6 separate regions of the Homo sapiens genome follow, and all the other regions are linked to region 6. Evidence: fine-mapped expression QTL. A gene starts in region 6. Each other region holds a variant in brackets. All regions are shown on one strand. Distances are between the middles of the regions.

Region 1 (4,090 bases), 53 kb after region 6:
CTTTAAATTAATTTGGCTGAAGCTTTTCTTTTAACACCCCATACTTACCCATCACTGGGGCCTTCCCTCACTTGCCCTGAACTAGCACGACTTAGTGTATACACATCTTTCCAGACCCTCGGGGTAAGTTGGATCTGAAACGTCCCTCCTTGGCTGTCTCGTCCACTGGCTATCCCTGTTAAATTCCTGGTTGGCCTGCCATTTGGATGCTTGTCCCAACCAATATCTTGACCTCAGGATAGCTGCAATATTGGCTTTATGTGACTGTTTGCCACTAAGATCCCTATTGTTTTTTACAACACCCTTGGGCATTGAATTTTCCATGCTCTGCTATGGACAGACAGGAGAGCTCCCGATCCTTAGGACCTGGCCTGCGGCTGGATAGAACATCCATACCACAGGGGAAGGGGAGCAGTGATTGGAGAACTCCTAGACTCTCTATCTTCTGACCAAACGTCAGTAGATTTTCTTGAGTAAATGATTCTCAATTTGTTGTTCCCCTTTGGTACATTTTCAGCATTTAAATAGCTGTTTTTGCCAATTTTATCTAGTTATATTGTTGCTTCTTGTGGAGATGATTGGTGGGGCTCCTAACTCAGCCATTTCAGAAGTTCGTCTCTCGACCTTCTCCATTTTCATCATGTGTTTTGAAGCTCTGTTATTAGATGGATACATATTTATGACTGATACGTCTTCCTAGTCAACTGATCCTCTTATAATTATAAAATATTTGTCTTTAACAACATATTTTATCTGAAAGTCCCTTTTTTTTTTTTTTTGAGACAGAGTCTCACTCTCTCTTGCCCAGGCTGGAGTGCAGTGGTGTGATCTCTGCTCACCGCAACCTCCACCTCCCGGGTTCAAGCAATTCTCCTGCCTCAGCTTCCTGAGTAGCTGGGATTATAGGCAGGCGCCACCACGACCGGCTAATTTTTGTATTTTTAGTAGAGATGGGCTTTCACCATATTGGCCAGGCTGGTCTCGAACTCCTAACCTCAGGTGATCCACCTGCCTCAGCCTCCCAAAGTGCTGGGATGACAGGCATGAGCCACTGTGCCCAGCCCTTAAAATTTATTTGATATTAGTATTAGGTATATTATGCTTATGTTTGTTTTTTGAGACAGGGTCTTACTCTGTCAGCTGGAGTGCAGTGGCACCATCTCGGCTCACTGCAGCTTCGACCTCCCATGCTCAAGCGATCCTCCCACTTCAGCCTCCCAAGTAGCTGGGATTACAGGCACTACCACCACGCCCAGCTAATCTTGGTATTTTTTGTAGAGACAAGGTTTCACCATGTTGTCCAGGCTGAAGTGCCATGACTATTTACAGGTATGGGTATTGCACACTACGACCTCAAACTCCTGGGCTCAAGCAATGCCCCCACCTCAGCATCCTGAGTAGCTAGGACCAGAGCCATGTACCACCACGCCCAGCTAATGTTTTAAAATTTTTTGTAGAGATGGGGTCTTACTTTGTTGCCCAGGTGGGTCTTAAACTCCTGGGCTCAAGCGATCCTCCCATCTCAACTTCCCAAAGTGCTGGGGTTACAGTCTGAGTCACCACGCCTGCCTATATGCTATGTTTATATGGTTTATAGATTTCCTTCCATTTACTTTCAAATATCTATGCCTATGTTTAAAGCAGATTTCTTATAGACATCTAATGGTTGAGTCTTTCCTTTTTCACTCATTACTGCAATCTGTGCCTACTGATTAGAACGTTTAGTATAACTGTTGACATTATGCCACCTTCACATCATAGGTAGAGACCCTACAGCTCTATAGTTCCATTGACCACCATCCTTTATAACATAGTTATTATAAATACCACAGTTGGCCAGGTGCGGTGGCTCATGCTTGTCATCCCAGCACTTTGGGAGATCGAGGTGGGTGGGTCACCTGAGGTCAAGAGTTCGAGACCACCAGCCTGGCCAACATGGTGAAACCCCAGCTC[T/C]ACTAAAAATACAAAAAATTAGCCAGGCATGGTGGTGCATGCCTGTGGTCCCAGCTACTCAGGAGGCTGAGGCAGGAGAATTGCTTGAATTGGGGAGGCAGAGGTTACAGTGAGCCAAGATCACGCCACTGTACCCCAGCCTGGGCAACAAAGCAAGACTCTGTCTCAAAAAAAAAAAAAAATTACCACAGTTACATGTATAACCACAATACAATACCATACTTTTTTATTTATATAAATTTTGGATAAACTAAGAGAACAATTTAAAAATATCTACTCATAGATTTACCGTTTTGTTGTGCTTTGTTGCATCTACTTTCATTTTCCTTAAAATATCTCCTTCAGCATTTATTTATTTATTTATTTATTTTTTGAGACGGAGTCTCGCTCTGTCGCCCAGGCTGGAGTGCAGTGGCGTGATCTCGGCTCACTGCAAGCTCTGCCTCCCGGGTTCACGCCATTCTCCTGCCTCAGCCTCCCGAGTAGCTGGGACTACAGGCGCCCACCACCACACCTGGCTAATTTTTTTGTATTTTTAGTAGAGATGGAGTTTCACCATGTTAGCTAGGATGGTCTCGATCTCCTGACCTCGTGATCCACCCGCCTCGGCCTCCCAAAGTGCTGAGATTACAGGTGTGAGCCAACACGCCCAGCCTCCTTTAGCATTTATTACAATGCAGCTCTACTGGCAAGAAATCATCTTTGTTTTCTTTTACCTGAAAGTATTTTTATTTTCTCTTCAGTTTGGAAGAATAATTGTACTAGATATAGAATGCTGATTGACAGTTTTGCTCTTTTAAAGAGGTCTACCCAACTCTTCTGCCCTCTGATAAAGAACTGTCAGTGGTAATTTTCATTTATTGTTTCCTTGTATGACATGTGCCATTTCCCTCTGGCTGATTTCAACATTTTGTCTTTATCTTTGGTTTGTAGTAGGTTGACTATTATGTGCCTAAGTGAGGTTTCCTTTAATCCTGTAATGTGATTCTCTAAATTTATGGCTTTCATTCATTGAAAAATCTAGGGACATTGTTTCATTTCGTTTCTAAAAAATTGTACTAAGAAGGCCAGGCATGGGGCTTATGCCTGTAATCCCAGCACTTTGGGAGGCTGAGGCGGGTGGATCGCCTGAGCTCAGAAGTTCGAGACCAGCCTGTGCAATATGGCGAAACTCCATCTCTACCAAAAATACCAAAAAAAACAAAAAAAAAAAAAGAAGAAGAAGTAGAAGAAGAAAGAAAAAATTAGCCAGGCCCGGTGGCATGCACTTCTGGTCCCAGCTACTCCGAAGGGCTGAGGCGGGAGGATCACTTGAGCCTGGGACAGAGCAAGACTCCATCTCAAAAAAAATAAAACATAAAAAGGCCGGGTGCCATGGCTCATGCCTGTAATCCCAGCACTTTGGGAGGCCGAGGCGGGTGGATCACCTGAGGTCAGGATTTCGAGACCAGCCTGGCCAACCTGGCAAAACACTGTTTCTACTAAAAATACAAAATTTAGCTGGCATGGTGGCAGACGCCTGTAATCCCATCTACTCAAGAGGCTGAGGCAGGAGAATCGCTTGAACCCGGGAGGCGGGAGGCGGAGGTTTTGGTGAGCCGAGATCGCACCATTTGCCCTCCAGCCTGGGCAACAAGAGCAAAACTCTGTCCCCTCAAAAAAAAAAAAGTAGTAAGAACATTTAACATGAAATCTATCTTCCTGACAAATGTTTAAGCCCACAACACAGTATTGTCAATATAGGCACGGTGTCGTGCAGCAGCTGTCTAGAGCATACTCATCTGGCATAACCGAAACTGTACACCTGCTGAGCAGTACACCTCCATTTACGCCGCCCCCCAGCCCCTGACAACCGCCATTCTACCCTCTGTCTCTATGAGTTTAGCCTTTTTTTTTCCCAAGACGGAGTCTTGCTCTGTCACCCAGGCTGGAGTGCAGTGGCGTGATCTCGGCCCACTGCAACCTCCATCTCCTGGGTTCAAGCGATTCTCCAGCCTCAGCCTCCTGAGTAGCTGGGACTACACGCACCTGCCATTACGCCCAGCTAATTTTTGTATTTTTAGTAGAGACGGGATTTTACCATGTTGGTCAGGTTGGTCTTGAACTCCTGACCTCAAATGATCCACTTGCCTCGGCC
Region 2 (4,090 bases), 61 kb after region 6:
TCACTCATTGAGCTGGATCCAAATTGGTCTTCACTGTATGTCAAGCTCAGCCCTGCTGCTAGGGTGTAAACCTACAAGGCTCACAGCTAAATACCTGCGGTGTTATCGGCCCCTGAACTCCGGCTTTTGTCTCTACTGTGCACAGATTTTCTGCCTCTCAGCTCCTGCTTTCCAAGCGGCAAATATTCACAGGGGAGAAGTCACTCCAAAGGCCAGGCTGGCTTCTCAGGGCTTCCCTCCTGTCTGTGATGGAAGCCCCATCACGTGACCGGGCGCGGCGGCTCACGCCTGTAATCCCAGCACTCTGGGAGGCCGAGGCGGGCAGATCACGAGGTCAGGAGATCGAGACCATCCTGGCTAACACGGTGAAACCCCGTCTCTACTGAAAATACAAAATTAGCCGGGCATGGTGGTGCATGCCTGTAATCCCAGCTACTCCGGAGGCTGAGGCAGGAGAATCGCTTGAACCTGGGAGGCGGAGGGAGGTTGCAGTGAGCTGAGATCACGCCACTGCACTACAGTCTGGGCTCGAAACTCCATCTCAAAAAAAAAAAAAAAAGAAGCCCCATCAACGTCTTGGCTGCCTTAAGAGCTCCTTAATTCCTTCAAAAATATATGTTTTCTGTTTTGACTGACTTTTCTACGTTTCTTTAGCAAGATAATTGGTCTGAAATCAGCTATTTGACAATTTCTAGGATAATTTTTAAAATTTTTCATTTTCTGGGCCAGGCGCAGTGGCTCATGCCTGTAATCCCAGCACTTTGGGAGGCCGAGGCAGGCAGATCACGAGGTCAGGAGATCGAGACCATCCTGGCGAACACGGTGAAACCCCGTCTCTACTAAAAATACAAAAAAATTAGCCGGGCGTGGTGGCGGGCGCCTGTAGTCCCAGCTACTCGGGAGGCTGAGGCAGGAGCATGGCGTGAACCCAGGAGGAGGAGCTTGCAGTGAGCCGAGATCGCCCCACTGCACTCCAGCCTGGGTGATAGAGCAAGACTCTGTGCAAAAAAAAATTTCTTTTTCTTTTTTTTCCTCTCATGAACTCTGCTACAAGAGAAGGTTTTGAGTATATTTGATTTCCCTCAACATTTTTTTTTTTTTTTTTGAGACAAGCTCTCACTCTCTGTCACCCAGGCTGGAGTGCAGTGGCCTGATCTCAGCTCACTGCAACCTCCGCCTCCCGGTTTCAAGCGATTCTCCCGCCTCTGCCTCCAGAGTAACTGGGATTACAGGTGCCCGCCACCACGCCTGGCTAAATTTTTTTATTTTTTAGAAGAGACGGGGTTTCACCATGTTGCCCAGGCTGGTCTTGAATTCCTGAGCTCAAGTTAATCCTCCTGCCTCGCCCTTCCAAAGTGCTTGGATTACAGGTATGAGCCACCGCACCTGGCCGGATTTCCCTCTACTTTGATAGAAATATATGATTATGGACGGGCACGGTGGCTCACACCTGTAATCCCAGCACTTTGGGAGGCCAAGGCGGGCAGATCATGAGGTCAGGAGATAGAGACCATCCTGGCTAACATGGTGAAGCCCCGTCTCTACTAAAAATACAAAAAATTAGCCGGGCATGGTGGCAGGCGCCTGTAGTCCCAGCTACTCGGGAGACTGAGGCAGGAGAATGGCGTGAACGTGGGAGGAGCTTGCAGTGAGCTGAGATCGCGCCACTGCACTCCAGCCTGGGTGACAGAGCGAGACTTTGTCTCAAAAAAAAAGAAAAGAAAGAAATATATGATCATATAAAAACAAAATGAAAAACTAAAGAGTATTATTTCTAGTAAAATAAAAACTGTTAAAATTTGGGTCTATTTTCAGTTTGATACTATTTTCTGTTTATGTAACTTAAATCACTTTAGTTTTCAGAAAATATATCCAGAAAAAAATTATTTTCTTCAATTTATTGAGGCATAATTGACAGAAAATTGTATCTATTTAAGGTGTACAACTGATGATTTCACATATGTTAACACTTTAAAATGATTACCCTGGCCAGCCCTGGTGGCTCACACCTGTAATCCCGGCACTTTGGGAGGCCACAGCGGGAGGATTACTTGAGGCCAGGAGTTTGAGATCAGCCTGGGCAACACAGCGAAACCCCATCTCTCCAAAAAAATACAAAAAATTAGCCAGGTGTGGTGGCATGTGCCTTTAATCCCAGCTACTACTCAGGAAGCTGAGATGGGAGAATTGCTTGAACCTGGGAGGCAGAAGTTGCAGTTAGCTGAGATGGTG[C/A]CACTGCACTCCAGCGTGGGTGACAAAATGAGACTCTAAGTAAATAAATAATAAAATAAAGTTATTACCATGATAAAGTTAATTAGCATGCTGCATTAGTCTGTTTCGCATGGCTGTAAAGGAATACCTGAGGATGGGTAATTTATACAGAAAACAGGTTATTTGGCCCACAGTTCTGCAGCCTGCACTAACACGGCACCAGTAACTGCTGGGAGTCCGGGGAGGCCTCAGGAAGGCTTTACTGTTGGTGGAAGGCAAAAAGGGAGCAGGCATGTCACATGGCAAGAGAGGAGGCAAGAGAGAGATGCCAGGCCCTTTTAAACAATCAGATCTCTTGGTAACTAATAGAGTAAGAACTCACTCATGACCTCAAGGACAGCACCAAGCCATTAATGAGGGATCCACGCCCATGACCCAAACACCTACTAGCCCTTACCTTCAACACTGGGGATTGCATTTCACATTATGAGATTTGGAGGCAAATATCCAAACCACAGCACTTACCCAATACTTCCCACACTTACCCCCTCCCTTTTTCGGTGAGAACACTTCAGATCTACTCTCTTAGCAAGCTTCAGTATAAAATATAGTATTATTAACTATGCTCACCGTGCTGTACATTAGATCTTTAGAATTCCTTCATCTTATAACTGAAAGTTTGTACACTTTGATCAAGATCTCTCCATTTCCTCCCCCACCTCCCTTCCCGGCAACCACCAGGTTGCTCTGCTCTCTGCTTCTATGAGTTGGAAATGTTTCTTCTTTTTAGATTCCATATATAAGTGATACCATACAGTATTTGTCTGTCTCTGTCACACTTCACTGAGTATAGTGCCCTCTAGGTTCATTTATGTTGTTGATAGGCAGGACTTCTTTTTTAAAGTGGCTGAATAATATTCCGCTGTGTGTGTATGTGTGTCAAGTTTTCTTTTTATCCATTCACCTGTCAGTGGACACTTAGATTGTTTCCGTATCTTTGCTACTGTGAATAGTGCTGCAATGAACGTGAGATGCAGATCTCTCTTCCAGATCCTGGATACATACCCAGAAGTGGCACTGTTGAATTATGTGGTAGTTCTATTTTTAATTTTTTTGAGTAAACTCCATACTGTTTTCCAGTGAAATAAGACAGTCAAAGAGGTTTTTCCATATCTTGGTACCAGGAGCTTTAACTCAGGTCCAACTCACCGTGGGCCCAGCGGGTCCCGGAACCCATTCTCTGGTCATTTCCCGGGTCCAGATGTGTAGTTGGAACAGACGTGTTCAGCAGCTAGCAGAGTTTCCACACGGGTTCCCTGAGCTATAAAGTGAGGGCAATTGTGATGGGAAAGGACAAATGGAAGGCGTTACAGCCATCTCTACCTAGAAAAATACTAAAACAAAAAACACACCAATACTGCCTTCCTGGAGGAATGATATAGATGAGTGCCATCATCAAAGACTTGAAGTATGGAGGGGTGGTGATTCCTACCCCACATCCTTGTCCAACTCTCCTGGCCTGTGCAGAAGACAGATGAATCCTGGAGAATGATGGTGGATTCCCAGAAGCTTAACCAAGTGATAACTCTAATTGCAGTTGCTGTACCAGATGCTGTTTCATTGCTTGAGCAAATTAACACATATCCTGGTACATGGTATGTAACTATTGATCTGACACACACCTTTTTCTCCATCCCTGTCCAGAAGGCCCACCTGAAGCAGTTTGCCTTCAGCTGGCCAGGGACACCTTCACTGTCCTCCCTCAGTTTAGATCAACTCTCCAGCCCCATGTCACAGTGTGAACCCAGGAGGCAGAGCTTGCAGTGAGCCGAGATCGCGCCACTGCACTCCAGCCTGGGTGACAGAGCGAGACTGCGTC
Region 3 (4,083 bases), 43 kb after region 6:
TAAGTCTACCAGCTTCAGCAAAGCAGTCATACACTCGAGCAAGGAAAATTCTTCTTTAACATGGAATCGGTGCTGATACAGGCCCACTGCCTGAATGAGGAAAGCTGGGCCCCAGGAGACAAAGTGCCATGTTCCAGATCCCACTGGGACCAAGGAGCTGCAGACGCAGTGACACTCATGCGATGAGGACCTGCCACGTGGGGATGTGGTCACATATATCACAGGGGGCTAAAGGCAGTGAGCAATTCAAGCCCCAGAAAGAAAGCTGGCACGTGCCAGCAACGCAGAGACCTGCAGCAGCTCAGGCACAGGTTAGGAAACTCCAGATCGACTTGCAGGTGCTGGTCTGAGGAGGGAGTTAGAATTCACCCTGCGTGAATATCCCCCATTGCCAGAGAGGGAGCTGGTGGAAGGAGCTGCAGGGGCAGTGATGAGCTGTCATCCCTACTCACCATCCACAGCCACATTCAACGGGCTCTGGGAAGAGGCAGCGACGATTGCTCCGACAGGCTGCCCAACCGCTCTACCTGCCTCCCACCAGTTCTCACACTGCAGTCGGTGCAATCTTTCAACATGTCAGCCTTCAAAAGGAAGGAAATTCTGGCGCAACACGGAGAAGCCTTGAGGACATGATGTTAAGTGAAAAGAACCAGTCACAAAAGAACAAATACCGTATAAGTCCGCTTATATGAGATACCTAGAGCATTCTAACACAGAGCATTCTATAGAAAGCAGAATGGTGGTTGCCAGCGGCTGGGGGCAGGGGGAGCAGGGAGTTGTTTAACAAGTACAGAGTTGCCGTTTTGCAAGAGGAAAACGTTCTGGAGATGGATGGTGCTGATGGTTGTACAACAGTGTGAATATATTTACTGCTGCACTGCATGTACACTGAGAAATGGTGAAGATGATAAGGCTTATAGTCTGCATTTTTTACCACAATACAAATTAATAATAATAATAATAAAATATCACACCCCTGATCCCTCCAGAGGCTCCTCCTCACGCCTAGCAAATCTAAAACTTCTTGCCATGTGTGTTTGTTTCCAAGAGCCGCTGTCACCAAGTTCCACAAACCATGTGGCTTACACAGCAGATATGTGTTGTCTCATGGTCCTGGAGGCTGGAAGTCCGAGATCAAGGTGATGGCAGGGCCGGTTCCTTCTGTGAGAGGGGATTTGCTCCACGCCGCCTGCCTGGCTTCTCGTGGTTTGCTGGCAAGCTTTGGCATTCCTCGGCTTCTAGAGGCAACACCCCAATCTCCACCCTCATCTTCATGTGGTATTCTCCCTATCTCCAACTTCCCCTTTTTATGAGGACACAGTCATAGTGGATGAGGGGCCAACCCTAATGGCCTCATTTTTGTTTGTTTTGTCATAGCCTCCTTTTAATCTGATTACCCCTGTAAAGATCGTATCTCCAAATAAGATCCCATTCTGAGGTATGGAGGGTTAGGACTTTGACACATGGATTTTGGGAAGATACAATTCAACCCATAACACCGTGGCTCTGCAAAATGTGAGCCCTGACAGCCTGTGGCCTCGTTTCTTAGCGTTCTCCCCTCCACTGCAGGGCAGCCACACTTACTTCCTTGCTCATCCGCCAGTGCACCAAGCACTGCTGTCTTCCGGCCTTCGGGAATGTAACTCCTGCAGCTACAGTTGCGCCCTTGTCTTATGGAGTGCCACAGCAATGTAAGAAACATGTAGAGCATCACCCCAACATGAAAATGCCTCTTCCCACTCACTTCTGCTCTCAACTTGGCTGTTCCTGGAGAGCTTCGTAAAGTGTAGGGATTTATCAAATTCTAATTCCATTAGTTTATTCACTTGTTAAACAGTTTCCTCTTTCTCATTCACTGATTCACTCTTCCAACAAATATTTGCTGAATATCTACTTTATTCCACGCAGCCTGCAGGTGCCCGGGACTCACTGGTGATTGACACAAATGTCTCTTCTTCTTCTAGCTAATGTCCTAGCAAGAGAGGCCAAACACAGACAGTGCAAATAAATCGTGAACAAAATGCGTGATGCTAAAAGGTGATAAGGGCTTAGAGAAGAAGAGGAGTGACAAACGGGGTCTAAGAATGTGAGGGGCAGGTTCAGTGACAGCATGGAAATGGGTGGTCAGAGAAGGTCTGTGGGAAGGCAAGAGCTGAGCGAGGATTGAAGACACGGAGCGAGCCACAGAGCCAGCCACGGCGCTGTCTGGAGGACACACATTCCAGGTTGAAAGAATTGTTAGAGCAAAGGCTTTGGCGAGGAACTTTCCCTGGTATGTTGGGGCTGCAGCCC[G/A]TGGGGTTAAAGTGGACAAAGGGGAGAGTGGTCAAGGAGCAATTCAAAGGCAACGTGGAACAAATTTTTCGTGTTAGGGCTTTGGTTTCTGCTTGATTTAGGGGAGAATGTGCAGAGCTCTGAGCATGTCACGGAATAGACTAAGGGACAAAGGTAGACACAGGAAAGCCCACTAGGAGACTGTTACAGAGTGCCAGGGAGAAATGACGTGGGTTGAACCAGATGGGGAGCAGTGGATGGGGTGAGAAGAGAAATATCTGGAAGGTCCAGCCGTCATTCCTTCACAGACTGGATGCTTGCGGGAATATCAGAGGGCACGAGTGTTCACAGCCTGAGCAACTGAAAAGGCAGATTTGCCTTCAGCTGGGACAGGAAAGGCTGTGGACAAGAACAGCAGGTCTGCGGGGGAAGACCCTCAGTTTTGCTCTGGACTGAGCTCGAGATGTCTAGACGTCAAAGTGGAGGTGTCACAGGAATTTCTTTTTTTTCAACACCACATTGGAGGTCACAGTAAGAATTTCTGAGCTGAGTTGACAGAGACTTGACATCATGGTCAGCAGTAAGAACAAGAGCAATGACAGTAATAATAGCAGTAACAACAGCCCCAGTCTGCTGTCTTGAGTGGACAGACCACAGAGCTCTCGGGATGGCATGTTCCACCATCCCCAGTGTACACAGAAGGGCTCTGAGGCACAGGGAGGGAAGGGCTGGCTCTAGCTCACCCAACAAGCTAGGGCTGACTGGGGCTAGAATCCAGTTCTTCTGATCCCATATCCATCTCCTGCTTTTTTCTGACACGTAAGATGTTCTTTGATCCAACAGAACAGCCTCCTTTCCCTGAACAGATGCTGTATCTTCCCACTCTGCCAGGAATATCTGCCTGGCATCCCGACTTCCTTCTGACGAAGCCCATTTCAAATGCTGCCTCCTCTTCATGTGGGCATCGTCCACCTCTCTCCTTTCTCCTCTGACTGCTCTGGTCGCTCCCTTGCTCAGCCTCTGTCTCAGATTCCCTGATGCTCCCCGGAGACAGGGCACACATCCGACTCACACCTAGACCCCAAAGTTCCTCTCCTTGTGAACTCACAGCGGGGGCCACTCGGTGAGATTGAGTGGATAAGGGAAGGGGTGAATGCATTCCACACTCAGTAACCATGTTTGTGGCACCCTAGAAGACGCAGATGCAGGATATGCTTATTCATTTATTCATTTGAGACATTCTTAGCCATTGGAAGCACTAACTTCTTAAAAATGTGATAAAAGCTGTGAAATCTTTTGCCAGAAAACTGCACATATATACACACGATTTGCAGATAGATTCGAGGGGGTTATGAATTTCAACCCACCTGCATTCCTTAGACTTCAAATTAAGCATCTCTATTGCTGCGTACCACAGAGCTGGGGATCCGGGCTGGGCTAAAGTATAGCCCCGTCTACACTCTGGGACACCCACTGAGTTGGAGTTCAGTCTGTCTTAGATAAAAATATTCGCAATCACTACACAGCTGCTTCCCACATTTTCTCCCACAGGGCATGTGGAGAGGAGTCTGGCTTAAGTGATCTCCGGGCAGTGAAGAGGAATCTGTTGTCATGAACAATGGTTTCTATCTCACTTGGAGTTCAGGGATTTGTGGACCATCAGAGGCAGATGTGTTTAGGAGTTGTCGGAATTTTAGCACGATGCCTAGACTGTGGTTGTGGCTGATGCCTGCTCTTCTATCATGGATTGGCTGCATTTCAGAAGTGTGTGGACTGGTAAATGACAAATAAGTAAAAACCCTGTTGTTGACA
Region 4 (4,090 bases), 22 kb after region 6:
ATGTCTAATCTCCCCTTTTTCCTCAGTAGTAGTTCTCCTACCCAATAGTTAGCTGCTGCTAGTCACTTAGCCGAAAGATTGTATGTCTCTGACTCTTGCAGATTGGTAAGGCCTTGTAACTAGTTCCAGGGAATAACAAGTAAGTAGAAATGTTCCTAAATGGAGACGGTGTACATTTCTGTTCTTTGCCCTCCTCCCGTGGGTATAGCGCAGGTGTGATGGCTAAATCAGGGATCCATAAAGTGCTGCCTACTGGCTGGCCAGATGTTTTTAAAGTTTTATGAGAATATAGTCATGATGGCTGGGCACAGTGGCTCACATCTGTAATCCCAGCACTTTGGGAGGCCGAGGTGGGAGGATCACTTGGGCCCAGGAGTTCGAGACCAGCCTGGGCAACATAGTGAGACCCTATCTGTATTGAAAATTTGCAAAAAGTAAAAAAGATAAAAATATATAGTCATGCATATTCATTTGTACATCGTCTGCTGCTTTTGTATTACAAAGGTGGAGCTGATTAGTTATGGCAGAGACTTTGTGGCCAGCAAAGCCTCAAATATTTAGTCTCTGGTTCTTTGAGCACGAGTTTACTCACCGTTGGCCTAGAATGTGAACTGCCTCCTTATACCATAAAGAACCTGAGAAAACAATATGCTATAATACAATGCTTTTTCCCTGGGAATTTCTTTCAATATTACTAGTGTCCATCTACCTTTTAATGTTTTTCAGAGATGGGATCTCTCTCTGTTTCCCAGGGTGGAGTGTATTGGTATGATCATAGCTCATTACAGTCTCAAATTCCTGGGCTCAAGCAATCCTCCTGCCTCAGCCTCCTGAGTAGCTGGGACTACAGGTATGTGCCACCATGCTGGGCTAATTTTTTTTTAAAAAGTTTTCGTAGAGACAGGGTCTCACTATGTTGACCAGGCTGATCTTGAACGCCTGTCCTCAAGCAATCCTCTCGCTTCAGTCTCCCAAGTAGCTGGGATTCTGGGCTCAAGTCATCTACTTATTTTTTATTTTATTTATTTATTTATTTATTTATTTATTTATTTATTGAGATGGAGTTTTGCTCTTGACACCCAGCTGTAGTGCAATGGCACGATCTCAGCTCACTGCACCCTCTGCCTCCTGGGTTCAAGTGATTCTCCTGCCTCAGCCTCCCTAGTAGGTGGGATTACAGGCACCCGCCGCCACGCCTGGCTAATTTTTGTATTTTTAGTAGAGAGGAGGTTTCACCATGTTGGTCAGGCTGGTCTCAAACTGCTGACCTCAAGTGATCCGCCAGCCTTGGCCTCCCAAAGTGCTGGGATATCAGGCGTGAGCCACCGCGCCTGGCCCATCTACTTATTTTTAACTGATACTTGAAAGAAGGAATCATTATTACTAATTATAGTATACAATATTTTCTGTGCATCTTAGTCATAGACACTTTATTGATATTGGATTGAACTTTTCATTGAGTTTCTATGAAGGATAGTGTGAAGTGGAATGGGGACTAAGACCTGGGAAGTGTCTACATTCAAGGGTCTTCCATGTGGGTGCTGGTGAGAGGCACAGGGGTGAACAGGGTTAGCAGGGTCACAGCAGAGCAAGAACAGGGCTGAGGACGAAGCCCTGGGAGCAACAGAATTTGTGGGGTGGAAATAAGAGTCCGTGAAGGAGGCCAGAAAGTCAGGAAGGGAATGCCAGAGAGGAGCAGACCTCAGGAGCTGCATAAGGGAGGGAACTGAATTGCATCAAGAGTGGTGTGAAAAGCTAAAGGAAGACTATGTTAGATAGGAAATAAGAAGATAGTGATTTAAAAAATTAGGAAGTCCATTAGCTCAGTATGCCTGTAGTCCCGGCTACTCAGGGGGCTGGGGTGGAAGGATTGCTTGAGCCCAGGAGGTCGAGGCTGCAGTGAGCTGTTACTGTGCCACTGCACTCCAGTCTGGGTGACAGAGTGAGATGCCATCTCTACTTTAAAAAAAAAATTAGAAAGTCCCTAGTTATCAGGGAAATGCAAATTTAAACCACAACGAGCTACAATTTTCCCTCCCCGACTAGAACGGTTAGAATGAAAATTAGATAATATCAAGCGTTGGCAAAATACAGTGAAATTAGGCCAGGCGCAGTGGCTCATGCCTATAATCCCAGCACTTTGGGAGGCCGAGGCGGGCGGATCACGAGGTCAGGAGATCGAGACCATCCTGGCT[A/T]ACACGGTGAAACTCCATCTCTACTAAAAATACAAAACCTTAGCCAGGCGTGGTGGCGGGCGCCTGTAGTCCCAGCTACTCGGGAGGCTGAGGCAGGAGAATGGTGTGAACCCGAGAGGGGGAGCCTGTAGTGAGCCGAAATCACGCCACTGCACTCCAGTCTGGGCGACAAGAGTGAGACTCTGTCTCAAAAAAAAAAAATGTAGCGAAATTAGACCCTCCACACATGGATAAGAATGTAAAGCAGTGCAGCCACTTTAGAAAAGTCTGGCAGTTGCTCAAATGATTAAACAGTTATCATATGACCCAGCAATTCCACTCCTGTTATATACCCAAGAGAATTGAAAACATGTTCACAAAAAACGTATACATGAATGTTCATAACAGCACTATTCATTATAGTCCAAAAGTGTAACAATCCAAATGTGCATCAATGGATGAATGGATAAACAAAATGTGGTCTTTCCACACAGTGGAATATTATTCAGCCATAAAAAGGAATGACGTGCTGACACATGCCACAGCATGGATGGACTTGGAAAACATTAAGCCGAGTGGATGAAGCCAGTCACAAAAGGCCATACATGGTATGATTCCATTCATATGAAAGTACAGAGCAGGGAAATCTACAGTGAAGGAAAGCGGATTAGCGGTTGTTTAGGGTCAGGGGAGGAGGATGGGAGTATGGGGAGTGAAAGCTAAAGGGTGTGGGGTTCCTTTTTGTGGTGAGAGAAACATGCTAGAGACCATTGAATTGTGAACTTCACATTGGTGAAGTGTATGGTATATGAAACATACAGCTCAGTGAAGCTGTTTAAAAAATTAGGAAGTCACCAGTAGCTTTGAGGAAGCATTTTTAATCAAGTACGAGTGATGAGGCCAGGATCCTGGGTGTGGTATGTTGAGGGTGATTGGGAGTTGCAAAGTGATGAAGGGGAAGCAATGCTGAGAGGTTATTTCAGGTTTGAGAAGATGTGAGGCTGCTTGGAGAGCAAGAGGAGGTAACCTGTCAGTGGAGAGGAAGGGGGTCGTCAGGGAGACAGTGACGGTTGATGGAGACAGGGCCAAAGGACATTCTTAGGGGAGGCACAGGTGGCAAGTGGAGCTTTTGAAGAGGAGAGAGGCCAGTTTCCCCCTAAAACACGAGGGAAAGAAAGAAGAATCCTGAGAGCTCATCGAAAACAGGAACCACATCAGATTTGTTTTTGTAATCTCCGCATCTATCTCAATTAATGGGAAATATACATTTATTCATTCACTAAACATTTAATGAGGGCAGACTGTGCCAGGCACTACTTCCCTGGCTAGTGATCCCACAGCAGCCCTCACAGACAAAACCAGCACACAGGCTGTGGAAGAGTTGTTAGTATTCACCAAACGTCCATGAGTGCCTCTATTTCCCAGCTTTCCTTGCAGTGAGGCTGAATCCACATGACTAGTTCTGGCCAATGGCCTGTGGGTGCATCACTTTCAGGTTGAGGCAATAAAGAGCCAGTGTTTGGCCTCCTTTTCTCCTCTTCTGCTATGGTGACCTTGGAAACCACACGTCCATGAAGCAATACGGATCCTTTCTGTGTGCAATGTGTTCTCGCCTCTTGATTTGCTTTGATTCTCCTCTCTATCTCCTCTTCCATTTCCTTCTCTCTGTCTTTCTTTTAAGTGCTGGTCACAACAGGCTAAATGATTTCATGAGTCACGAATAAGCTCTTTGAAAAATATTGTTCTAGATCAACACTTAATCTACACATGAAGCGTAAGGGATCTTGTTAATCCAGGTTCTGGCTCAGTAGGTATGAGTTGGGGCCTGAGAGTCTGCATTCTAAAAAGCTCCAAAGGCAGGGTGCAGTGGTTCACGTCCATCATCCCAGCACTTTGGGCCCAGGAGTTTGAGACTG
Region 5 (4,090 bases), 100 kb after region 6:
CTGACTCCGCTTTTTTTTTCTGAGGAGGAGTCTCGCTCTATTGCCAGGCTGGAGTGCAGTGGCGCAATCTTGGCTCACTGCAACCTCCGTCTCCCGGGTTCAAGTGATTTTCCTGCCTCAGTCTCCCAAGTAGCGGGGACTACAGGAACATGCCACCACGCCTAAGTTTTGTATTTTCAGTAGAGACAGGGTTTCACCATGTTGGCCAGGATGGTCTTGATCTTCTGACCTTGTGATCTGCCCGCCTCGGCCTCCCAAAGTGCTGGGATTACAGGTGTGAGCCACCGCGCCCGGCCTATGTGACTCCCTTTTAAGGATGGCAGTGATCAGCAAACTACGGGTCATGGGCCAAATTCAGACCACTGCCTGTTTATGTATGGCCCTGTGCAAAGAATGGTGGGAAAAAAAAAGAGAAATATGTTACGGAGACCATTACGCAGCCCACAAAGCCTAAAGTCTTTACTACGTGGCTTTTTTTTTTTTGAGACAGAGTCTCGCTTTGTCGCCCAGGCTGGAGTGCAGTGGCGGGAACTTGGCTCACTGCAAGCTCCTCGCCATTCTCCTGCCTCAGCCTTCAAAGTAGCGGGGACTACAGGCGCCCGGCATCACACCCAGCTAATTTTTTTTGTGTTTTTTAGTAGAGACAGGCTTTCACCACGTTAGCCAGAATGGTCTCTATCTCTTGACCTCATGATCTGCCCGCCTTGGCCTCCCAAAGTGCTGGGATTACAGGTGTGAGCCACCATGCCCAGCCTACATGGCTTTTTATAGTAAAAGTTTGCTAATCCCTGGAAAAGACAAGTGGGAAAGGCAGGTGGTAGGCCTAGAGGCTGAATGAAGCTCCCTGTTGGGAGACAAGCAAACTACAGAATCGTTGGGAAACGATGCCTGAATCATGGACAAACTTGGAGTGTGTGATTACATAGAGAGAGAGGAATGATTATCAATACCACCTCTTCCATTCCCAGACACAGGGCAATTTCATGCCTATAAGGGGGAATAGGTTTTTAATGTTTATTTATAAAGATCTGATTTGTACAATCCTCACACACTCAGCTCAAATTTTTCAGTGACCAACCGCTTTTATTCAGGGAAGGAGGTGCTGAGATATCCCAATTTTTGAATTCTGTTTCTAGAGGGAAAATTTCCTTACCCAGTGAGACCAGGTTCCTATAGTTCTCCAGCATCACATCCCGGTACAAGTTTCTCTGAGAAGGGGCCAGCTTTCTCCACTCATCTCGGGTAAACAGCACAGCCACATCCTCAAACGTCAGTGACACCTGTAAGGACAAGTCGTTCCAGCTCACCCAGGACCACCCTCACAGAGCAGAGGGGGCGGCAGTGGGAAAGACACGCTACCCGTGAAACACTTCCCATACTATTCAAGCTTCTGAAGGTTCCAGATCATTCGTTTAATGAATAATTGGCCAGTAACAAATGTATACTGAGCAGCACACAGTGAGATTCAGGCCTAGTGCAGCCACTGTAAGAGATGGGTAGAGGAATTACGGCCATTAGTGGGAGTGTTAATTAGAAAACTCTTTCTGATGGCGATTTGCTAATACATATTAGAACCCTCAAAGTATACTCTTTAAAGTACCAATTACTCTATTTGTACGATAATGAACAGTGCACAAAAGTACACACAAACATATTCATGGTGTTTTTAAGAGCAAAAAACCAGGAATAATCTAAATACTTAATGATGGAGGTTAGGTTAAGCAACTGAAGGTACTCTCTATGTGCTTACTCAAGCTTAAGGATAGTAATGACGAAAAGTAAAATAGCTATAATTTATTGAAGGCTTTCTATGGGCCAAGTATTGATCTTAGAGCTTTATGTTAATTTGCAGTGTATAATCTTTATTTAACATTCACAACAATCCTATCAAGACGATACCATTATTGTTGCCACTTTACACAAGAGAAAACAAAGTCACAGACAAGATAAGAAATTTGTCCAGGTCACACAGACACAGTCACTGACCAGCTGTGTGACTTGTACACATTTTTTTTTTTCTTTGAGACAGAGTTTGGCTCTTGTTGCCTAGGCTGGAGTGCAATGGCATGATCTTGGCTTACTGTAACCTCCACCTTCCGGGTTCCAATGATTCTCTTGCCTCGGCCTCCTGAGTAGGTGGGATTACAGGTGCTAGACACCATGCCCGGCTAATTTTTGTATTTTTAGTAGAGACAGGGTTCCACCATGCTGGTCTCAAACTCCTAACCTCAGGCGATCTGCCGGCCT[C/T]GACCTCCCAAAGTGCTGGGATTACAGGTGTGAGCCACTGTGGCCGGCTGACTTCTACAAATTTTGTATCCTCTCTGTGACTTTGTTTTTTCTTGTGTAATTCAAATCCAGCAGATGTCTCACTGAGCTTGCATTCTTAACTACTCTGTAAAACTGCCTTTTAATGCCTGCCCCTTAGGGTTAAGAAATAAATGTGATAATCTACACAATAAAGATGGATAGCGATGATGGCTGCACAGCAATGCGGAAGTACCTAAAATACCACTGAATTATACACTTAAAAAGTTAAAATGGTATATTTTATGTTATATATATTTTGCCACAATAAAAAAAGGTTAAAATGGTAACATAGATGGTAACATGCATACACAAACACACACACACAAATAAATGTGTACAGAAAATGATTTATTCGGGCTGGGTGCAGTGGCGCACATCTGTAATCCCAGCACTTTGGGAGGCTGAGGCGGGTGGATCACCTGAGGTCAGGAGTTTGAGACCAGCCTGGCCAACGTGGTGAAACCCCATCTCTAATAAAAGCACAAAAAAAAAAACTTAGCCGGGCGTGATGGCGGGAGCCTGTAATCCCAGCTACTTGGGAGGCTGAGGCAGGAGAATTGCTTCAACCTGGGAGGCAGAGGTTGCAGCGAGCCGAGATCCCGCCACTGCCTGGGCGACAAAGCGAGATTCAAAAAAAAAAAAAAAAAAGAGAACCACTAGACACGGGTGGGGAGGGTGGGTGGTCCTCCCTACAGAATCCACCACTCATGAGGGCGGACCAGCTCCTCCAAGAGAAAAGGACTTGGGCTCCATCCTGGCTGGAGATGGTCCCGGGTGAAGAACTCCAGTTAGTGGGGAAAATCCATCCACTGGGATCTGGGAGGGCAATGAGCTCACCTGGGGCCTCGCTTCCCGCTGCCCAGCAGCCATGTCCTCTTTCTGGCTCTCCCGGGAGGACGGCGCAGTCTCCAGAAGGCAGATCTGAGAAGAAAAAGGGAGCCAGGAAGAACCCCTTCTGCTTTCCAGCCCTGGAATCCGCAGCTCTAAAACCCCGACTCCCGCTGAGAAGGACCCCGCGCGCCCTCACAGGGATTCGGGAGGAGCCAGGAGCCCGCGGACCAGAGCAGCGCTGGGCCGCCCGGCCAGGCCCAGGCCCCACAGGCTTGGGGCTTACGGAGGGGACGCTGGAGCCGCAGTGGCAGCAGCGACCCGCTGAGCCCACCAGGGCCAGGGCTCGCCCCACGCCGCTGAGTTCCTCGGCGCCAGCTGGCACTGCCAGCACCCACTGCACCGCTCAGGAAACTGAGGCAGCGCCGGGGCACCTGCCCCGTTCACGCCGCTGCGAGGCGGGCCGGGACTCCCACCACGACGGCCCCGGGACGACTTCCCTCCGCCTCAAGCCTTTCCCAGCCGGTTCCTCTCTCTCCCGCCAACGAATCATCTCCCGACTCCACGGAAAACGGCTTTTTTTTTTTTGAGGCGGAGTCTCGCTCTGTTGGCCAGACTGGAGTGCAGTAGCGCAGTGGCAGGATCTCGGCTCACTGCAAGCTCTGCCTCCCGGGTTCAAGCCATTCTCCTGCCTCAGCCTCCCGAGTAGCTGGGACTACAGGCGCCCGGCTCATTTTTGTATTTTTAGTAGAGACGAGGTTTCACCGTGTTGCCCAGGCTGGTCTCGAACTCCTGATCTCAGGTGATCTGCCCGCCTTGGCATCCCAAAAATCTAGGATTACAGGCGTGAGCCACCACGCCCGACCCCATGTATCCCATTTCTAACACGATGTTTCTTTTTTGAGACGGAGTCTCGCTCTGTCGCTCAGGCTGGAGTGCAGGGCTTGATCTCGGC
Region 6 (4,090 bases):
AATGGTAAAAAGAGAAGAATTTCACAATTCAGCAAGGAGCTGAAAAAAGCTAAAATGGAGTAAAACCCACTCAGTTAACCTCATTCAGCTTGCCCAAATGACTAATAAGCAAACAAATGCAAGCAGAAATTTAAATGATTTTAAATGGATTAAAGGTTTTGGAGTGAGGCAGCTTCAATTCTTCTGGGAGGTATTCCACAAGAAAGTATGTGTCACGCCATCAGAGTCTGATTGCCACCAGATAGTCAGATATTTTAATTCACTCTCTTGCTGATTCTAATTCTATACCCATCAAGCATCCTTCTAAGGTGGCTCTCAGCTCACTTTACAGAGGAAGAGAAGGCACTGATCAGGCCAAACAGCAATTCTAAAACTCTTGTTAGCGTCTCAATGGAAGTGAGCATTCCGGTTTGATACAAATGGAGTCACTTCCATATGGGAACGTGACATGAATAACAGCACACATTTACTTGAGGCAAAAGGCCAAAACACAAACTTTCTTCATTAGAGCTATCAAGAAAAATTTATGGCTGGACGCAGTGGCGCCTCATCCCTTGAGCCCAGGAATTCGAGACTGGCCTGGGCAACACGGCGAAACCCTGCCTTTACAAAAAATACAAAAAATTAGCCGCACATGGTGACTCGAGCCTGTAGTCCCACCTACTGGGACAATCACTGGAGCCCAAGGAAGTCAAGGCTGCAGTGAGCCATGATCACGCCATTGCATACCAGTATGGGCGACAGTGAGACCCTGTCTCAAAAAAAAAAAAAAAAAAAAAAAGAAAATGTGTATTTCAAGTGCAGTTCTTCTGAAGCGTTCCGTCAAATACCAAAGTTGTATTTTAACCACATCAGGAACTCAGCTTGGTTAAGCATTTTTAAATCATAGCAAGCAAAATCACATCTGATGACCGAGCGTTATTATTATGACCCTCCATTACTATGAAGTTTTTTTCAAGACTTATGTATCTTCTTCAGTTTTGTTTTTTCCTCTTCTACTGTAAGTCTGCTTACAACCAGCTAACCTCCAGCAAAACAGAACTCTCAAATTATCAGTTAATATGCAAACATTAAAATAAGAACGAGCTCCGTTGTGAGAGTCCAAAATTCTTCTCAAGTTCACTACTTCAAATGTAATTCAGCTGTTAGTCCCAGCCTCTGACCTCCCCCACTCACCCTGCAATGTTCAAAAATATTTTATCTGGAGGCACAAAGATCACCCGACCCACGTTCTACGTGGTAAGGTTCCTTCGCATACATAAAAAAGAAAAGCTATCTAGAATCATGACACTGCCTCTAATAAAGCATCCCACATGCTAGAGTAGGTATCTTTCAAAAAATAATGACACAATGGATCTCATATGTAGATCCATCGCCACTGCCCTTAAGATCCTGTAGTTCTTGACAACTTTACGCTACGTACATGGCTTAAAAACATCGAAACAGGTTATAAGTTTAGGATTGGATGGCTCCAAGAGGACTGCATTTAATGGGTTACAAGCCTGTAGGGGTGTGTAAAAAGCACAATCGCACAGGACAGCTATGAGGCAAGACAAAGTGGCTGGCGAGTTCAGTTTGCGGGGCGGTTTCCTAAGGATCGGATAAGCCTATCTGGACTATTTAGGCAACCAGGGATAATAAGATGCAAAACCACCAGAAACGCAGGTTCGCTGCAACAATGTTGTGTTCAGCATAGCACAGAGGACTAGCCTCCGCAAATTTCCACCTCTCACAAGCAGCTACTGCCCTCAACCACCTGGATTTGCACGGACGCCCGGTCCCCACCTCCCGGCTCCTGGGCACCCGGCCAGTGCCTTTGGCGCACTCAAGACAGGGGCAAATGCTTGACTCTGGAAAACCCCCGAAACGCTACAAACGGCCCAGGCCAGGAATCCAGGGGAAGACTTGATCTCCGACAACACGAATGCCAGAGACGGCTCTCGAAGGGTCTCCCGACAGGTCCTAGCGCCCGCCGGCTGGAAGAGGTCCCGACAGGGTTAACCAACAGCCGCGCTCGCCAGGCAGCAGGGGACCGCGAGCCCACGGCCTCCGGAGCCGCGACGCGAGCGGCCAGGGCCCTCAGAGAAGGGTCAGCGGCAGAACCGCGACGCCCGAGCAACTTTCGGTGCTGCCGGCGTGCACCAGCCGAGCAGCGCCTCGCAGAACTCCCAACTCAGCTCCAGAAGCCCAGGCCCCTAACGCGGTCGTTTCTCCGACACCTGGCTCGGAGACCTAAAGACCGACAGCCGCCTGTCCCAGCACACACCATCTGCAACCCTACCTCCGCAAAAGCAAATGGCCCTTCGGCCGAGAAATGTCGCCAAACTGCCGTCTTCCCTCCTCGGCCGCTGCGACAAACACCCCACAAAATGGCGGCAGCGCCGTCGCCCTAGAATCCCCCGAGTCGCCTCTAGCACCACCTACGCCGCGCGAACGCGCCTGCGTGACAGAACCTTGCGCGCTCCCGCCGCTCCACCTAAGGGCGGGGCTCCACGTGACGTAAGAGCGGGGCTCGAGCCTCCACACTGCGGCTGCGCGGCCCAAGCATTTCCACCCCCCCCCCCCCGCCCACCCGGTCCCGGGGCCTCTAGGCCGGGAGGGTGTTTACGTTCTCTACGGGCTCGGGTGGAACCGGGAAGGAACGCCCGTGTCCCGCCCTCAGTGTGTACCGCGTGTCTGCCCCCTCCCCCGGGACCTCAACTCCCGCAGCCGGCACCCGACAACGGCCCCAAAACCGCCTAGGGCGGGCCTTGGCTGGTCCCTGGGCTGTTCCCTGGACTGGGTGCTTGTCCTGCCCACTTGGCGCTTCCAGTCTAAGGTGGATTCGGACAAAGAGGCTGTCTCAGAAAACAAGCTCAAGGGGTGCTAATCTTTTCAAGGCACGTGCTCCTATTCAGAACAAAACAAAAACCCGGAGGTTTCAATGGAGACTCCTGACAAGGTTTTCCTGTTAGGATCCCTACCTCCTGAGCAGTTAAGGTCGCTGGAAGTTTCCCTAACGAAGTTTTCCCCATTTTTTTTTGTCCCTGCGGGCTGATTTTATTCAAGGCTGAAAAATGTCTCTGAGCTAGTGATAGTCCGTTATGGGGCTTGCTTACCTCAAATAAGGTATTCTGCAGTTCTGAGGACCCTCAGGCAGTTCCCCCGTGTAAGTATGTAACATGAGAAATATTAGGGTCAAAGTCGGAGCCCTGTGGGGAACACTCAAGGGCCAGAGGGAAAGGGGCCTGAGAAGGAATGATCAGCAGAGGAGGAGAACCAAGAATAGGGTGTCAAAGCAAGGAAGGGCGTAAGTGAGGGAAAGGGTTTAGGTGAGACTGAAGATCGTGGGGGGGGACGGCGGGCGGGGTGGGGGTTGGCTTCTGTATTCTGACGGGGATTCGCTGGATAAAAGGGAAAGCTAGAAATCAAATTTGGGAGGGTAGGGTTGAACTCTTGCGGGTATTAGCCCAGTAGCATGTGGGAGACCTGTTATCCTGTTAGGTGAAAGGAGGGAACGGAAATACCTTTAGTGATCTAACATGATAGAAACTTGTGCCATCTGGTTTGGGTAAGTAGGGTAAATTTAGATAAATCTCGGAGATTGTACAGCATTTCAAAAAGTAAGTTGAATTTTCATGGAGATTGCACTCCAAGAAGCGAAGTTGAAAAGAAACTTGGAAAACTGGAAGGGTAAACTCTTTATGCTACAGAATGAAACAAATGATATTATTTTCATCTAGAATAGCCACCATTTTTGCATCTACAAATTTAAATCTTACTCATCCTTGAAAGGCCATTTCTTTAAGATGCTGTCTCTGACATGAGTTCCCACCCATTTCCCGGCTCCTGACTACTCCAGTTAGATGTGAAGTCCTCAAATAGTGGAGTATTTGGAGCCACCTGGTATGCTAACAGATTTTGCCCAAAGAGTGAAATGTATTGGTTCTACAATTGATTACACATCCCGTCTCAAGGGAATCTATTAGATAGAATGTTGAGCTGACTGGTCTGGGCGATAATACAAGGTAGAGTGGGGCTCAAATTGCAGCATATGAGAATGTAAATTCAAGCTGGCACCAAAGAATGTTCTCCTGTTTCATGGAGTAGG

Evidence for each region. PIP is the estimated chance that this variant, and not a neighbour inherited with it, causes the effect.
Region 1: its variant is fine-mapped to the expression of CLK4 in whole blood (GTEx, PIP 0.97).
Region 2: its variant is fine-mapped to the expression of CLK4 in whole blood (INTERVAL, PIP above 0.99).
Region 3: its variant is fine-mapped to the expression of CLK4 in whole blood (INTERVAL, PIP above 0.99).
Region 4: its variant is fine-mapped to the expression of CLK4 in fibroblasts (GTEx, PIP 0.96).
Region 5: its variant is fine-mapped to the expression of CLK4 in whole blood (TOPMed, PIP above 0.99).

Annotation. Positions count from the first base shown.
Region 1 is chr5:178,677,907-178,681,996 of GRCh38, forward strand. No RefSeq gene overlaps it. Among named protein-coding and RNA genes, the nearest start is that of MSANTD5, 18 kb to the right of the region's middle. The variant T/C (reference allele first, on the strand shown) is at 1,954.
Region 2 is chr5:178,686,073-178,690,162 of GRCh38, forward strand. No RefSeq gene overlaps it. Among named protein-coding and RNA genes, the nearest start is that of MSANTD5, 9.6 kb to the right of the region's middle. The variant C/A (reference allele first, on the strand shown) is at 2,233.
Region 3 is chr5:178,667,484-178,671,566 of GRCh38, forward strand. No RefSeq gene overlaps it. Among named protein-coding and RNA genes, the nearest start is that of MSANTD5, 28 kb to the right of the region's middle. The variant G/A (reference allele first, on the strand shown) is at 2,293.
Region 4 is chr5:178,646,718-178,650,807 of GRCh38, forward strand. No RefSeq gene overlaps it. Among named protein-coding and RNA genes, the nearest start is that of CLK4, 22 kb to the left of the region's middle. The variant A/T (reference allele first, on the strand shown) is at 2,196.
Region 5 is chr5:178,725,846-178,729,935 of GRCh38, forward strand. It overlaps ZNF354A (zinc finger protein 354A), which reads right to left. Exons shown (of 5, transcript NM_005649.3): 2 at 3,145-3,228; 3 at 1,154-1,280. The coding sequence starts at 3,177. Among named protein-coding and RNA genes, the nearest start is that of ZNF354A, 2.8 kb to the right of the region's middle. The variant C/T (reference allele first, on the strand shown) is at 2,248.
Region 6 is chr5:178,624,665-178,628,754 of GRCh38, forward strand. It overlaps CLK4 (CDC like kinase 4), which reads right to left and starts at 2,386. Exons shown (of 13, transcript NM_020666.3): 1 at 2,282-2,386. RefSeq lists enhancers at 1,332-2,012, 1,745-2,354.